Linked DNA regions of Homo sapiens. The protein of the gene in region 3 purifies or fractionates together with the protein of the main gene of each other region. This does not show direct contact. Each region holds a gene or a part of one and is shown on either strand. Other genes may lie near its edges.

Region 1 (7,000 bases), on a different chromosome or scaffold from region 3:
GTCTTCCTTTAATTAATTAGTCTCCTTTCCTCACCTTGGTGTGGCCAAACTTGTACTGGTTGTGATCAATGTCCAGGGAGCTGAGCAGCTTCTCTGCCCCCTTCCTGCTATCAATGAACTGTCCCTCAGGGATGGCCGCTGGGTTCAGGATGCGATACCTGAGGAGGGAAGTGTCCAGAGTCACCCATGCTCTGCAGTGATCTGCTCTGCCCATAGAATTCCAGGGTCACCTGCAGATCCCATTCCCATCAGGGCAGCCTGGCTCCCCCTGTTCTATGAGCTCTGGTGCACCCTCATACCCACCTCTGCCGGAAGTCCCCGTAGAGGATGCGGTTGGGGAAGCCTTTCCTGCAGATGCGGATGCCCTCCAGCACACCATTGCAGCGCAGCTGGTGCATGACCAGGGGGTTGTCCATCACCCCTGTGGCAAGAAGGAAGTAGGAGGAGTCTGTGAGAACACTGGACTGAAGTTCTGGGTTCTGATCCTGGCTTTGTCACTGATTAGCTTGTAATCTTAGCAAGTCAGTTAGTAATAATCATTTGTTTCATTTTCTTCTAGCCACATTTTTAACTAAAAGGCTTTCACATTCCTTTTTTATATGATTCACACCTATTATCATAGGTGGTAGCCAGAACAGATATATCCAATGTTCTAGATGAGTAAATTAAGCCCAGAGGGGTTATGGGACTGGCCCAAGTTCACTAAGCTGATCAAGAACAGAGCCAGGTCTTGAACCCAGGTCCCTGAGCCTCTGTCTCCTAATTAGCCAAAAATGGATTAACAATTTGAATATGTCTCATTGGGGGATTAAGTGGTTCTGCAGGTAAATTTAAAGTTGAACTAAGATTCTGTCTTGGACAACCAGCTATCCAAGGGGTTGTAGGGCCACTGATGAGGTAATGTCCATCAGAGTGCCTTACACATCACCCTCATTACACACTGCAAGTGCAAGGTAGCGCTGAGAGGGAGGTACCCTGGGAGGCCTCATGCGGGATGGGAGGAGAAGAATGTGGTTTGGAAACCACTGTGGTGGTAGGTAGGGAGATGTCCTAGGAGGTCCTGTTCCCAGGGCGGTGTATGCCCAGCAGTGGGTTGGCCTGAGTTTGTGGCCTCACCTGGAGACTTTGTCTCATTAGGGATGATACAACGTACAAAGTGGGGATGGGTGGAGCGCAAGTTGGTCATCAGCTTGTTCAGATTTTCCTGTGGCCAAAAATGCAATAGAGAAAAGTAAAGAAAATGCCAGAAAGAGATGCAGGAAGAAGAGAGGAGAAGAAGGAAGGAAAAGAGAGATGGAGAGAATTCGAGAAGTCACAGAGATGAAGGGGCCCTGGGGGCAGACAGGGATAAGGAGAGAGGGTGGGAGACAGAAGGGAAAGAGGAGAGAAGGGAGATGGGAAGTAAATAAGTGAAGAGGCCAGGAGATGACGGGAAGAGAAGACAGAGTGAAAATGGTCCCGAATGCACCAAGGAGACAGGGAACGGGAGGAGTAGGGGATGAACAAGGCAGGGAAGGGTGGGGCTGGGTGGGGTTGGGCAGATGGGGAGCCAAGTTGGCTGGGGCTGTGTCCCACTCACCCTGTGCAGAGCTGACACAGTCTGAAAGGACGAGCCTTTCTTGGCCTTGCCTTTGCCCTTCTCAATAGCTGCAGGAAGGAGAGTCAACAAAAGAAGCATCAGTGTGGGGAGGTAGGGTGTGAGTAAAGAATCACAGCCCCTCTTTACATCCTTGCTGGCATTTGGCCCCTGGGTGAGGGCCTTCAATGTGGCTGCCTCAGTTTCTTCACCCAGTTCCATCCCACTGAGTCTGTAAACCTTGGGGTACAACCTGACATTGAAGTGGTGGGGTGTAGCAATTGACCTGGCTCAGAACCTTGGCAGAATCCCTGCTCCTCTGTACCGGGAGCCTCAGTCCCTACTTACGCGCATCAGCCCCAGCATAGTTGGCAAACAGGGTGCTGAGCAGCTTGAGGGAAGACTTCTGATACAAGCCCACGACAGTCTCATTGAGAGGATCCTTGTTCTTCTGCAGCCAGCCAATGATGTTGTAGTCCACGATGCCGGCATAGTGGATCAGGGAGAAGTGGGCTTCAGGCTTCCCCTTGATATTGCGTGGCTTCTGGAAGTTGGCGGATTTGCCCAGGTGGTTGTCAAACAGCTTGGCCTTGAAGGTCATGTCGGTGGCCTTGGGGAACATGCACTCCTCTTCCAGGATGGACATGATGCCCATGGGCTGAGGAAGCAGGAGAGAGCATCACTGAGTGTCCTTCACACAGGTGGACATGGATTCTGCTCTATGGTCAATATACTTGCTCGTGGAGGTGCCATGTTGGGTGTTAAGGTAGTAGGCTCAGCTCTGAGTACAGTTATCTACTGACTGGAACCGGTTCAAGGTGGAGGATTTTGTCTGATGACAGAAGGACCTTTGTGAAAGTCTGGGAATATGGATTCTATCGATGCTGTACACACCACTCCACGACCCAGATGCCTGAGATGCTAGGGTTGAAAATAGGTGCACTCTTATGATCCCCTACACCACCCTCACACTTCCTGATCCTTGGATGCATAAACCAGGCCCAATAAACATGCAGGTGTGGGAGGTCATCATGCAGGTGCCCATCCTCCATGTGTCCACTTTCAAGCCCCTGGGAAATCAGCTGTCCCTGGTGCCACCCTGTCCTGGGTGCTCAGCACAACATAGGCTCTGGAACCAAGGGCTCGGATCCTTCAGCCCCTTCTATTTTTATATTCCCCAGAAGGGAGAGGGGCTGCTATTTTGTCTATGGTGTTCTTGTTGGGTGTGCAGGGAGAATTCAGGTGGTAAGGCCAAAGAGGCACCTTCTCGATGAGGTCAATGCAGGCCTGCAGGTCCATGCCAAAGTCAATGAATGTCCACTCGATGCCCTCCTTCTTGTACTCCTCCTGCTCCAGCACAAACATGTGGTGGTTGAAGAACTGCTGCAGCTTCTCGTTGGTGAAGTTGATGCAGAGCTGCTCAAAGCTGTTGAACTGCAGGGGGCATGAGGGGTGGGAGCAGTCAGAAAGTGGGTGTGAGTGGCCATTGGGGCTGTGCCCGTCCACTGTGCCTGAGCCCAGCAGGGCGTGGCTGGTCCCCTCCATGTCAAGGCAGTGAAGGAGGGCTTCCCCTGAAGACAGAGAAAATGACTGCCTCTGTCACCACACAGTCCCCACTGCCTTCCCATGTCTGGTCCACAGCTGGCTCTAAGCAAATAGCTGTTGAATGTGGGAGCGAGTGAGTGATTGTTCTCCCACTCCCAGGGGTCCCAACTCACATCGAAGATCTCGAAGCCAGCGATGTCCAGGACTCCTATGAAGTACTGGCGTGGCTGCTTGGTCTCCAGGGTGGCATTGATGCGCGTCACCATCCAGTTGAACATCCTCTCATACACTGCCTTGGCCAGTGCCCCAGTGGCATATATCACCTGCAAGGTGGAGGAGAGACCCATATTGAGCAGGGTTGTTGGGAAGAGTGAACTTGAAAACTCTCATCCCACCATGCCAGTCTCCCTACCCTGCCCACCCATTATCATCTGAAGATGGACCCACCTGCTGGACATTCTGCCCCTTGGTGACGTACTCATTGCCCACTTTCACCCGAGGGTGGCACAGCCCCTTGAGCAGGTCGGCTGAGTTCAGCCCCATGAGGTAGGCAGACTTGTCAGCCTCTGGAAGGAAAAGGCAAGTAGCAAAGTTGGTAAAGAGATGACTGCTGGCCAGGTGTGGTGGTTCATGCCTGTAATCCCAGCACTTTGGGAGGCCAAGGCAGGCGGATCACTTGAGGTCAGGAGTTTGAGACCAACCTGGCCAACATGATGAAACCCCATCTCTACTAAAAATACAAAAATTAGCCAGGCATGGTGGTGCATGCCTGTAATTCCAGCTACTCGGGAGGCTGAGGCAGGAGAATCACTTGAACCCAGGATGTGGAGGTGGCAGTGAGCCAAGATCGTGCCACTGCGCTCCAGCCTGGGCAACAGAGCAAGACTCCATCTCAAAAAAAAAAAAAAAAGAAAAAAGAGAAGAGAGATGACTGCTGAGCAGACATGGCCCTCCATGACTTGACAGCTGCCCCCAAGAATCCCTGCCTCCCACCTTCAGTGCCGTCTGGCTCCGCCTGCTCCTCCCGCTGCTTCAGCTTGAACTTCATGTTTCCAAAGTGCATGATGGCGCCTGTCAGCTTATACATGGAGTTTTTCTCCTCTGAAGTGAAGCCCAGCACATCAAAAGCGTTCTGTAGGGAGGCCCCATATTGGCGGACCCCAGAAAAAGAAGTATGATGGGTAAGTGAGATCCCTTGTAAGTTGGAGAGAAAACTTGTCTCCTTAATCCCTGTGGGTTCTGAGACTCCCATACCCAGTGGGGAGCTCCAAAACAAAGGATGTAAGATGCAGGGAACTCCAAAACAAAGGATGTAAGATGCAAGAGCAGAGCAGACGTCAGTTGGCCGCAGCCCCAGTGTCAGTGGCCACAGCTTTTCTGAGTTACCCACTTATGCTTCCTGGCCCTACACTTGCTTCCTGCCTGGCCTTCCATACCTGTCTGCATCTGTTCACCTAACAGCCCCTCCAGCCCCATGCCGTCTGCATGGCCTTCCCTCCTCGTCCTGCTCCCTCGGTGATGCTTGTTTCTTGGCTTGTGTGTCTCTCTGTCTCATGGCTTTCAGCTCTTCCTGGTTTGATAGAACACCAGATACTGGCCAGTCCTGTCTCACCTCATCCATTCCCCAGTACACCCTGATCACAGGGCACATTCTGGCTCTCAGGAGGTCCATACCACTTTAAACAACCAATGGCCAGCGTCTTAGCTCTGCTTTTGGACCCCTGTTTGCCCCTCACTGCCAATCCTCCCACCCCCTGGCTGGGTCCTCACACACTCACATCAGTGGCCATGAGCTCCTCAGCGTCATCAATGGAGGCCACGGTGGTCTCTCCTTGGGAGATGAATGCATAATCGTAGGGGTTGTTGGTGATCAGCAGCATGTCTAGGGGAAAAAACATGGTTAGGGTGGGACACAAGCCCCCGGCTCTCATGGAGGCTGCTCGCCACAGCACATGGCCTGAGGAAGAGCACAGGACAGGGCTTGGCTTGGCCCCACATCCCACTGAATTGAATCCAGCAGTGCCATGAAACCCAGGGCATGCCAGCTGAGTCCAGCCACAAGCAGAGGGGACCAGGTTGCCATGGAGATAGTTGGTCTCAGTCGGTGGCTCTGACTCACCCAGCAGCTCAGGCTTTTTGTTAGACAGGATTTGGTAGAAAATGTGATAATCTCTCTCTGCTTTCAGCTGGAAAATAACTCTGGATTTTTCCAGAAGATCTGTGAACAGGTGGGGAGAAGAAGGAGAGAAAGAAAAGTTAGGGTTTGGGCACAAGGAAAATTAATGATAAATGTAGCAAGCAAAAGGCAGAGGGAAGGGAAGAGCCAGAGAGACTAGTTGGACAGACACAAAGAGATCACACAGAGAGATGGAAACAGAGACCCAGAAGGAGAGAAATAGTCTCAGAGAGAAATCCCAGAGAAAGACACCTAGCCATGCAGAGACAGAAATGGAGAAAGATGCAGAGGAAGTCTCAGAGAGAGACAGATATGTAGACCTGAAGACAGAGACACCTACAGACAGAGACTTAAAGAGGAGAAAAACAGAGGGAGGGAGGGGAGAGAGAGAGAGGTCAAGACCAGATGGTCTAGAGCAAGGGTGAGCTTAGGCTGAGCCTAGCAGATTCATGGCACTCACAGGTCTCTATGTCTGCAGATGCCAACTTTCCTGTTGCCCCAAAATGAATTCGAATGAATTTCCCCTGGAGAGATGGAAGAGAGTGGTGATGAGTTGGGGGAAGGCTCATATCTGAGACCATTCCTCCACCAGTCCAAGTCCCAAGGCCAAGGTCAGGGACCACTCACGAAGCGGGAGGAGTTGTCGTTCCGGACGGTCTTGGCATTGCCAAAGGCCTCCAGAGCAGGGTTGGCCTGGATGATCTGGTCCTCCAGGGTGCCCTGCAGAGGCCAAGAAGGAGGCAGGTGAGAGCTCTTCTCCCTCCCTTTCTGCGGTACAGGACCTTGGAGGGCAGCAGGCCTACCTTGCCCGGGCTCTGGTCCTTCTTGCTGCGGTCCCCAATGGCTGCAATAACAGCAAAGTACTGGATGACCCTCTTGGTGTTGACTGTCTTCCCTGCTCCGGATTCTCCGCTGTGAAGACAGGGGCTTATTGGGCAGTGAACAATACTACTGGAGACCAGCAAGCCTCAAATCAGGAGAGAATGCCTGGGCCTACCCGAGAGTAGGAGCCCTGGGCAAGAAGCTGCCAGGTTATCTACACCCAAAATCCACAACTGTCTTCTGATGCACAGAGGTCAGGGCTGGCACCAGGAAGGATGCCACCAGAAGGCACTGGTTTGGGCAGGCTGAGCCTGTGCTTGGCTGGGCAAAGTAAACAGGGGAGATGGGCCTGGGCTGTTTTGGGAAAAGTTGGTAGGGCTGGAAGAATGGGAAATGTTTCTGAAGGGAAAGAAAATGCAGAGGTGAAGACATGGCGATAATGAGCTTCTGGATAAACGCGTGATGAGTTGGAGAGTGGGTGAAGGAGGTGGGAGAGGAAAAACATGAAGGGGATGGAAAGCAGAAAGGAAGAGGGAGAGCAAAGAGAGGGGTCAGGGTAATGGTCAGAGAAGAAGGAGATGGGCACGAGGTTGGGGGGAAAGAGGCTGAGTCTATGCCTCGGGGCCTGGGACACCTGATGGGGCTGGAGGCTGGGATCAGGGAGATTCTGAAAGGGAATACAGTAGCAGCTACACTCACGTGATCAGGATGGACTGGTTTTCTCTGTCTGTGGGGAGAGGGTGGGGAGGAAAGGTCAGGAGCTGCACAGGATGCTCTCGTGGGGCTTCTCCCTTCCTTCTCCCTCTCCCTCCCGGCCTATCCCAGTTCCCTTCAGGAAGACCCTTCCAGGGCCTCTCACCTGTCAGCATGTACTGATAGGC
Region 2 (2,770 bases), on a different chromosome or scaffold from region 3:
ATTAAATTTAGAAGTTTGATTAAAGAGCTATATATAGAAAGGAGAAAAGGCATAAACTTAGAATTATCTTCTAATTTGGTTTTTATTCTAAACATTTCTTATGATCAATAATTTTTGCCTGTGTACACTAGGTAAAATGACAATGTGAGTTGTTATAAGTAAATGTGCTTCTCTTCTCTTTCATTAATTTGAAACAGAACACCAGCCTGATCAACACCAAGAAGAAGCTGGAAACAGACATTTCCCAAATCCAGGGAGAGATGGAGGACATCGTCCAGGAAGCCCGCAATGCAGAGGAGAAGGCCAAGAAGGCCATCACTGATGTAAGCAAGATGAGCATTTGTCTTACTGACACATGCATGCTGCCTGCTATCATCAGAATTCATTATTTTCAAAATTTATTTGCTAACTAGGCTGCCATGATGGCTGAGGAGCTGAAGAAGGAACAGGACACCAGCGCCCACCTGGAGCGGATGAAGAAGAACATGGAGCAGACCGTGAAGGATCTGCAGCTCCGTCTGGATGAGGCTGAGCAGCTGGCGCTGAAGGGTGGGAAGAAGCAGATCCAGAAACTGGAGGCCAGGGTAGGTCTCCACAACTTCACTCAATTCCTTGTGGCCAGTTACAGCCAAACTGGTAAACGTCTTTGTTCCCTTCCAGGTGAGAGAGCTTGAAAGTGAGGTGGAAAGTGAACAGAAGCACAATGTTGAGGCTGTCAAGGGTCTTCGCAAACATGAGAGAAGAGTGAAGGAACTCACTTACCAGGTGACCAGTGTTTTCATATCTTCCAGGCCTATAGTTTTCAAGAAAATCATGAGTTGTTTTAAAATAATGGCACCATCTACTTGCACCTCTTTCAGACTGAGGAGGACCGCAAGAATATTCTCAGGCTGCAGGACTTGGTGGACAAATTGCAAACCAAAGTCAAAGCTTACAAGAGACAAGCTGAAGAGGCTGTGAGTATCTCCACAGTGGAAATGAAAGGTTCAGATGCACATCCAGGTTTTTTGGGGCCTAAAGTTTATAGAATTTAGGGGGTTTTCTTTAAATTGGGAATACATAATTAGGTATGAACATGAATATTTAGAATGAGAAAAATGAACCATAAATTACTGGAGCCTTATAGATTTGAGTTTATTTCTTCTGAGACCTCTTTAAGCAATTTTCCAGACATGTTAACATACAAATGTTTCTTAGTTGCAATCCACTTCCCTCCCTATCTAGAACATTCTACAACCCCCAGCACTCATATGGACCTGTGCAAATGAGAGTATGAATTCTAAGCTTCATTTAACTTCATGATAAATCCATCTTGGGACTTTTTTTTTCAATTTGGCTGCAGTTATCTTTTTCATTCTGTTAATTCTGAAACCTTCCTTAGGGTTCTTGGCACCAAATGCCACTACTGCACCTATTTTTTAAAGTTTCTTTTTTAGAAACAAGATTGAATTCAGATCCCTGCTACTTTGTTCTTCCAGTTATCACTGCAGCCTCTTCAGTTTGCCAGAAAGAGAGTCAAGTGAGAGAGAGACTTGAGGAGGGTCATAAGCACATTCATTTACATAGGCGAGTTTGTGGGATGCCTTGCTCTCAAATAACTATGTTACTAAATAATAAAGCCTTTTTCTCTTCTTTTTTTTTTTTTCGAGGCAGAGTTTTGCTCTTGTTGCCCAGGCTGGAGTGCAATGGCACAATCTCAGCTCACTGCAATCTCTGCCTCCTGGGTCCAAGAGATTCTCCTGCCTCAGCCTCCTGAGTAGCTGGAATTACAGGCATCCACCACTACGCTGGGCTAATTTTAGTAAAGATGGGGGTTTCACCATGTTGGCCAGGCTGGTCTCGAATTCCTGACCTCAGGTGATCCACCCGCCTCAGTCTCCCAGAGTGCTGGGATTACAGGTGTGAGCCACCATGCCTGGACAACGGAGCCTTTTTCTTTCTCATTCATGAGGCAAATCCTGAAGTAACAAAAGCAATAACAATCAGGAAATGTCCAATTTTCTTGTTATCTCAAATGCATCTCTGTTCTCAGGAGGAACAATCCAATGTCAACCTTGCCAAGTTCCGCAAGCTCCAGCACGAGCTGGAGGAGGCCAAGGAACGGGCTGACATTGCTGAGTCCCAAGTCAACAAGCTGAGAGTGAAGAGTCGGGAGGTTCACACAAAAGTCATAAGTGAAGAGTAATTCATTCTAATGAAAGAAAATGTGACCAAAGAAATGCACGAAATGTGAAGTTCTTTGTCACTGTCCTGTATATCAAGGAAATAAAATCTTTAGATAATTTTGCATCTAAAAATACATTTGTCTCTTAATTATAAGCTCTTTAGTGCTATTAGAACTAATTCCTTTATTCAACATTTGTGGAGTTCCTAATATGTGCAATCAGAGATAATAACAAAAATGAATGTAGGCAGTGAACCCAACTTTAATGGAAGGTAAATGAAATAAGGTGCTCTGAGAAGACATGAAGGTGACAAACGCACTCTCAATTCCATTCAACCAATTTTACTGAGTATCAACTATATGTCTGGTACAGAAATGGACACGAAAGATGTGACAGTTATCCCTGTCTTTGAGAAGTTCAATCCAGTGTGGAAGACGGCAGTTCAAAAAGATATACGCTGTATGTATGTGCAACATACATACTCTGACATGAGTGTGAAAAACAAATGTGGCAATAACATAGAGTGAGCTGCTAACTTTGGAAATCCAGAAAGGCTTCTCAAAGGAGACTATGAGCTGATTCCTAAAAGAGGACCAGACAGTTAT
Region 3 (7,150 bases):
GCTGGTCACAGTCTTTTCCTAAAGGAGAAAGTGCAGAAGGTTCGGGAGTGAGAGACAGAGAGTTGAAACAGATGCTAATCATCAACAGGAGAAGACGTCAATCCTGTTTCATTATTTAGGATGCGCTTTCTCACTTGGCCCTGAAGTGACGGACAGATGGTATTACAATTCCATTCTACAGATGGGGAAATGGAGGCACAAAAAAGAGGAGTCTCTGCAAATGCGAGGAGAGATGAGGCTGTAGGGATGAGTGGGGCAAGTCCTGCATGGTATCAGAGGGGCTGAGACTCTGTCCTGGGGCCACTGGGGAGCCACGGGAGGGCTGTGAGCAAGGAAGGGGAGGGGAAGCTCTGGGTGTAGAAGGATCTTCTGGGGCCACAGGGAGCATGAGGGGCTGAAATTCATGGGCAGTGTCAGGACTCGGCCTAGACTCTGTGCCACCAGCGTTGCCCAACATGGGCAGTGGCTCACCAGAAACTCCTGGGAAGGTTGGTGGGATGAATTAATGAACGGATGAATGAGTGAATGACAGGAGGAGGGAGTAGCCTCCATCCTATCCACCTTAGTAGAGTCCCCGTCTTTTCCAATCTCAAATCTGAGTTCTGTGCCCAGGTGTCGGGTCCCTCATGATCACTGGAAAAAAGCCCACAGCAGGGCCAGACTAAATCTGGTGATGTGGTGAAAGTTTCACCCAGTACTAAATGTAAATGTGTGCCCCAAATGCAGCAATCAAGATAAAGAATATTTCATGCAATATTGGCCAGGCGCGGTGGCTCACGCCTATAATCCCAGCACTTTGGGAGCCCAAGGTGGGTGGATCACTTGAGGTGGGAAGTTGAGACCAGCCTGGACAACATGGCAAAACCCTGTCTCTACAAAAAAAAAAAAAAAAAAAAAAAAAAAAAAAAAAAAAAATTAGCAGGGTGAGGTGGCACACGCCTGTAGTCCCAGCTACTTGGGAGGCTGAAGCAGGAGAATCACTTGTACTCAGGGAGGGGGAGGTTGCAGTGAGCCAAGACTGCAACACTGCACTCCAGCCTGGGTGACAGAGTGAGACTCTGTCTCAATAATAACAATAATAATAATAATGCAAGATTTTAAAAAAAATCAAAATTAATGCAAAAAAATCAATGATGAAGAAAATATCAAATTTTTAAAAAAGGCCAGTCTCATGCCACATCAGACTGCTATTTCAAAGGAAATGTATGTGCCCTCATATACTTGCTTTTTTTTTTTTTTTAAGGAGAGGGGTTCCTGCTCCATTGCCCAGGCTGGAGTGTGGTGGTGAGATCATAGCTCACTGCAGTAACAAACTCCTGGGCTCAAGAGATCCTCCTGCCTCAGCCTCCTGAGTAGCAGGGACTATAAGCACACACTACCATGCCTAGCTAATTCCTAAATTATTTTTGTAGAGACAGGCTCTCCCCATGTTGCTCAGGCTAGTCTTAAACTCCCAGGCTCAAGTGATCCACCCACCTTGGCCTCCCAAGGCCTGTGCTGGGATTTCAGGCATGAGCCACTGTGCCCTGCCCAAGTTTTTATATATTTTTTCTAAATTTATTTTTCCTGGAATGCTAAACTAGTTGAAAAATACTGAAAAATGAAGTAAGTGTGTTGAAATTCACAACATTATTTTACATTTAAATCTTTCATATATACCCTAGACAGAATTTGAATAATTTGACTTTCTTGGCTTTTAATGGAGGCAAATCTGCCAATAACACTTTCTAAAGCTACTTCTTTGCTCCTCTTGTTTTCTATTGAGAGAATGGCCATGTTTGATTATTTCTCCTGATCAAGCGATAATCTTAAATGACTTTTTTTTTTTTTTTTGAGACAGAGTCTTGCTCTGTCGCCCAGGCTGGAGTGCAATGGCGCCACCTCAGCTCACCGCAACCTCTGCCTCCCAGGTTCAAGCGATTCTCCTGCCTCAGCCTCCCAAGTAGCTGGGATTACAGGCGTGCGCCACCACGCCCAGCTAATTTTGTATTTTTAGTAGAGACAGGGTTTCTCCATGTTGGTCAGGCTGGTCTCAAACTCCTGACCTCAGGTGATCCACCCTCCTCGGCCTCCCAAAGTGCTGGGATTACAGGCGTGAGCCACCACGCCCAGCCCCCTCTATTTTCAACTTAGCCTCATGGGTAACAACAGCAGCGACCACCTACAGAACGTTTAACTCAGCACATCTCACCTCTATCCTAACAGAAGATGCTATCAACAGTCCCATTTCCTAGTGGGTAAATTGAGGCACAGAGCGCTTGGGTAACTGGCTCTAAGCCGCACAGCTAAAGTTGGCACAGCAGGGATTGAAACCTAGGACGCCTGGCTCTGCGACTCACGAACATGCAGGGCGTTCGTTGCATGGATGAAGGGGCCGAGGGTGCACGGGTGCTTGTCAGGGGTCGGTGTGGGACCCCTACTCACCTCCACTAGCTGATGCCAGTGCTCCACGGGCTTGCGGGGATTGGCCAGCATCTCTGCCCAGTGCTCGCGGCCGTGCGGGTCGGCAGCGTCGGGGCCCACACGGCACACGCCGATCACCTCGTTGTGCCCGATGCTGGGGGTTGGGGTCAGTGAGGACCGTGGAGGGTGGTGGGAGGGCCTGTCCCCACCCCAGCCCTCCTGCCTGACCCCCGCCCGGGCCGCGCCCCTCACCAGTCGTAGTCTACCACGGCGATGCTGAGCCCCACGTTCTCCACGCTCTCGGGGGCCACGTCGAACACCAGCGCCTCATTATAGGTGGGGTTCAGCGTGTTCTTCTTGATGGAGGTTTTCCGCTTCTTCAGACGCCGCCCCTCGCTGATCAGGGAGGCCTTCACGTAGGGGTCTGGGAACAGCAATGAAGTAAGGAACAGAGACTCACTCCCTCAGACCTAGGGGTCCAGGACCCCAGGCCCCGAGCCCCTCCTCCCTCAGACCCAGAGGTCCGGGGCCCCAGGCCCCCAGTCCCTCCTTCCTCAGGCCCAAGAGTCCAGACCCCAGGTCCTCCTCTCTCCGACCCAGGAGTCCAGGCCCCTGGCCCCTCCTCCCTCAGACCCAGGAGTCCAGATCCCCAGCTCCTCCTCCCTCAGACCCAGGAGTCCAGGCCCCTGGCCCCTCCTCCCTCAGACCCAGGAGTCCAGGCCCCCAGCCCTCCTCCCTCAGACCCAGGACCCTCACCTGAGAAGCCAGTGAGGTCCATCGCTTTGAGGTTAGAGGCTTTGATGATGGTCACGGTGAGGCGCCCGGCCGTGGGGAGGTAGCAGAGTGAGAAGTTGAGCTCCCCAAGATCTGCTTTTTCCTGCAGTTGGGGAAAAGGTCAGCGATATCTTGCCTCAGCCCCTCTTCAACTCTCCCTGATTTTCTCTCCGGTCGGAGCCTCCTGCTTTACACCCTGACATCCAGGGCTCAGGCTTCCCATCCACTTAGCAATCTGACTCTTGGGACAAGGCCCAGTAATTCCCTGGCCACAGCTGCCCATGACCATCAAAGCTTATTTGTTCTGCAGGAAAGATTGGAAGAAGCATGAGTGAGGGGAGAGAGAGAGGAGGGGAGAGACAGAGAAGGTGAGAGAGAGAGAAAACACAAAGAGAAATAGACTGAGACAGAAGCCAAAACACGGAGGGATACAGCTGGAAAGACAGACCCACAGGCAAAGTTCTCAAGTCAGAGGGACAGAGGCCCAGAGACAGACACAGAGAGAGACCCAGAGAGAGGGAGACAGAGACCCAGAAAGAGAGGGAGACAGAGACCCAGAGAGAGAGGGGGACAGAGGCCCAGAGAGAGAGGGGGGGGGACAGAGACCCAGAGAGGAGGACAGAGACCCAGAGAGAGAGGAGGACAGAAGCCCAGAGAGAGAGGAGGACAGAGGCCCAGAAAGAGAGGGGGACAGAGACCCAGAGAGAGGAGGACAGACCCAGAGAGAGAAAGGGGCAGAGACCCAGACAGAGAGGGGGACAGAGACCCAGAGACAGAGAGATAGAGACCCAGAGAGAGACAGAAGCCCAGAGACAGGGGGTACAGAGACCCAGAGAGAGAAAGAGAGAGAGATATATATAGAGAGAGACTCAGAGAGAGACAGAGGCCCAGAGAGAGAGAGGGACAGAGACAGTGGGTTGGGGGTGCATAAAGACCCAGAGAGAGTGATAGTTACCTAGAATTAGAGTGGAGGGGCAGAGACCAGAGAGCGAGAGAGAAACCTAGACTCAGATACCCTACTCCCTGCACCAAGAGAAAGAGAGAGAGAGAGAGAGAGGCTGACTCAGACAGAGTGGGACAAAGACCAAGCAGACACACACACATAAACCAGCCTGAGAGAGGGCAGGAGATTCATCAACCTCCACCGAAGTTTCCAGGACTGCCCCCAACCCTGACACACAGGCTGGAGCCACGCTGGAGCTAGCTGGGAGCTTTGACCAACCTGGCCTAGCCCTGCGGCCTCCCAACTGTGCCCAGGACTCCCTACTCATTCCCCTCAGGGCATCTGCCCAGGCTGTCCCTCTGCCAGAACACTCTTCCCTCTATCTCTCCTTGGCCTTTGAGCCTCCCCTCGTTCCACAAGCTCCCAGATCCCCCACAGCCCTGCAGAGGCTCCTCCTGTGCCTCCCCATAACCCTGGCCCCTGACACAAGGCCCGACCATCTAGACCTGGAGCTGCCGAGGGCTGCCTGGGGTCCCCAGGCCCTGCTCCTGAAAAAAACAGTGGTTGAAGAAATGAATGAAGGCTGGGTGCAGTGGCTGATGCCTGTAATCCCAGCACTTTGGGAGGCTGAGGTGGGCGGTTAACCTGAGCTCAGGAGTTCGAGACCAGCCTGGCCAGCATGGCGAAACCCTGTCTCTACTAAAAATACAAAAATTAGCCGGGCATGGTGGCAGGTGCCTGTAATCCCAGCTACTTGGGTGACTGAAGCATGAGAATCACAATCACTTGAACCCGGGAGGTGGAGGTTGCAGTGAGCTGAGATTGCGCCACTGTACTCCAGCCTGGGTGACAGAGAGAGACTCTGTCTCAAAAAAAAAAAAAAAAAAATGAGAGAGAGAGAATGTATGAATCAATGGAATGAGTGAGGAAAACCTCAAGTGATGATGATGGAGAGAGAAAATGAGAAGGGTGAGCACAAGAATTAGGCCAGCATGGATACAGAGAGAAGGCCCTGGCATGGGGCTGCCATGGGTGATGACTGGGAGTAGGAGCTGGTGGAATACACAGGGGCCCTGGGACCTTGGAACTGGGCACTTCAATCTCAAAGGCTGGGCTTGGGGGCCAAGCAGGCAGGCTGGGGAGGGCCCCATGAAGAAGCCTACCCAAAGAGCTACCCAAAAAGCCTACCTGGCACCCAGCTCAACTGGACATCTGTCATTGAACAGATGGGGAAACTGAGGCTCAGAAAAGGAAAGAACCTTGAGGAGGTCTAGTCCTCTCCTGATATGAAGGCCGCCCTCCCCACAACACACACACAGCTACCCCAGATTGGCAGAGAACTGGAATGTTGGATAATCCACAAATTAGGTTGGAGCGGGGGCGCTGTAGAGTTGAGGATCTGAGATTTGGTGGGGCAGAAGAGCTCAGGACACACACACAAGAAGTACCTAAGAATGGGGCTGGGGAGGGATTGGAGGTACAGGGAGAATGAGATACCAGAGGGCAGGGGTCGCAAGGAATAAGGAAGAAGCCATTGGGCCCTATAATCTGGATGCTGGGAGAACTGAGGAGTGTCTGCATATTGGGGATCCCAGGATGGCTGAGGCCTGGGGGATCAAGCTATCAGCATTCGGGCAGGGACCATGAAAAAACAGAGGGTCAGAATATGAAAGAGTTCCAATGTCAGGGGTTGGGAAAATTCAGAAGTTCAGAGATTAGAGAGGGATTGGGGCTTTCAGAAGTTCAGAGATTAGAGAGGGACTGGGGCTTCCAGAAGTCCAGTCATTGGAAAGTCAGGAAGTTAGGAAGGTAAGAAGTCTGGGGTGAGAGGGGAGAAGTCATGGGGTTGAGGCAGGAAGGCATCCTATGGCAAAGCGGGTGAGAGGTTGGAAAATCGGATCCAGACCTGATGCTAACATTTGGCGATGTTGAGGAGAGGAATGGTGTCCACTGTATCATTATCTGTTCTTTTTTTTTTTTTTTTGAGACGGAGTTTCGCTCTTGTTGCCTACGCTGGAGTGCAATGGCATGATCTCTGCTCACCACAACCTCCACTTCCTGGTGCAAGCGATTCTCCTGCCTCATCCTCCTAAGTAGCTGGGATTACAGGCATGTGCCACCATGCCCGGCTAATTTTTGTATTTTTAGTAGAGATGGGGTTTCTCCATGTTGGCCAGGCTGGTCTCGAACTCCCAACCTCAAGTGATCTGCCCACCTGGCCTCCCAAAGTGCTGGGATTATAGGCATGAGCTACCGCGCCCGGCTCATTCTCTATTCTTGCCTGTAAGTTTGCAGTCTTCCCCAGTGTGATACATTTTAACAGAAAAATGTGGGGACAAGAAGTGAGGAAGTTATGAACTCTGAGGGCAGGGGGCTTGCAACCCGGGGGGTCTCAGGGCCCTGGGAAGGGGAAGGTCAGGGGAGAGGGCCACTGACCGAGCCGCCCTCCACGATGTCCCTCCAGAGCGGGCGGTCAGGGGGCTGCTCGGCCAGCTCCAGGAGGTTGTCCAGCACCACCTGGCCGATGAGGTCGTGCCGCGAGAAGCGGTCAAAGTCATAGACGCTGAAGTGCAGTTTGCGTTGGGCCAGCTCGGCCAGGGGCACCGAGAATTGAAACGTCTCATTGAAGACGGGGTTCAGGGTCTTCCTGTGCACCTGGTGGTGGTGGGCGACAGGAGACAGACACCGTGCCCATAAGCCCCTCCTCCACAGGATCCAGGAGTCCAGCCCCCAGCCCCTCCTCCCTCAGACCCAGGAGTCCAGGCCCCCAGCCCCTCCTCCCTCAGACCCGGGAGTCCAGGCCCCCAGCCCCTCCTCCCTCAGACCCGGGAGTCCAGGCCCCCAGCCCCTCCTCCCTCAGACCCGGGAGTCCAGAGCCCTAGCTCCCTCTCTGTGGGAACCCGGTGTCCAGCCCGCTGCTCCGGACCTTGGTCTGAAACTTTTTCTTGCGGTCAGGCAGCAGGTAGATCTTGACGTAGGGGTCTGAGAAGCCGTTGGAGTCCTTGGCAGGGAGGTCCAGGGCCTGCAGGA

Evidence for each region.
Region 1: the proteins of SYT3 (region 3) and MYH7 purify together in Homo sapiens (affinity purification with mass spectrometry; 2 studies listed by BioGRID and IntAct, with this or other methods). This does not show direct contact.
Region 2: the proteins of SYT3 (region 3) and MYH4 purify together in Homo sapiens (affinity purification with mass spectrometry; 2 studies listed by BioGRID and IntAct, with this or other methods). This does not show direct contact.

What each region holds. Positions count from the first base shown.
Region 1 is NC_000014.9:23,425,661-23,432,660, forward strand, and holds part of MYH7 (myosin-7), read right to left. Parts: coding exon 6,979-7,000; intron 6,847-6,978; coding exon 6,819-6,846; intron 6,210-6,818; coding exon 6,101-6,209; intron 6,018-6,100; coding exon 5,925-6,017; intron 5,822-5,924; coding exon 5,758-5,821; intron 5,340-5,757; coding exon 5,241-5,339; intron 5,004-5,240; coding exon 4,900-5,003; intron 4,254-4,899; coding exon 4,115-4,253; intron 3,688-4,114; coding exon 3,569-3,687; intron 3,445-3,568; coding exon 3,295-3,444; intron 3,011-3,294; coding exon 2,840-3,010; intron 2,235-2,839; coding exon 1,925-2,234; intron 1,648-1,924; coding exon 1,580-1,647; intron 1,205-1,579; coding exon 1,117-1,204; intron 422-1,116; coding exon 304-421; intron 159-303; coding exon 35-158; intron 1-34. UniProt on the Homo sapiens protein: Myosins are actin-based motor molecules with ATPase activity essential for muscle contraction. Forms regular bipolar thick filaments that, together with actin thin filaments, constitute the fundamental contractile unit of skeletal and cardiac muscle.
Region 2 is NC_000017.11:10,442,790-10,445,559, reverse strand, and holds the end of MYH4 (myosin-4), read left to right. Parts: intron 1-197; coding exon 198-323; intron 324-413; coding exon 414-584; intron 585-660; coding exon 661-765; intron 766-860; coding exon 861-956; intron 957-2,032; coding exon 2,033-2,185; 3' UTR 2,186-2,270; downstream 2,271-2,770. UniProt on the Homo sapiens protein: Muscle contraction.
Region 3 is NC_000019.10:50,622,738-50,629,887, forward strand, and holds part of SYT3 (synaptotagmin-3), read right to left. Parts: coding exon 7,047-7,150; intron 6,776-7,046; coding exon 6,557-6,775; intron 3,281-6,556; coding exon 3,160-3,280; intron 2,828-3,159; coding exon 2,656-2,827; intron 2,558-2,655; coding exon 2,425-2,557; intron 19-2,424; coding exon 1-18. UniProt on the Homo sapiens protein: Ca(2+) sensor involved in Ca(2+)-dependent exocytosis of secretory vesicles through Ca(2+) and phospholipid binding to the C2 domain.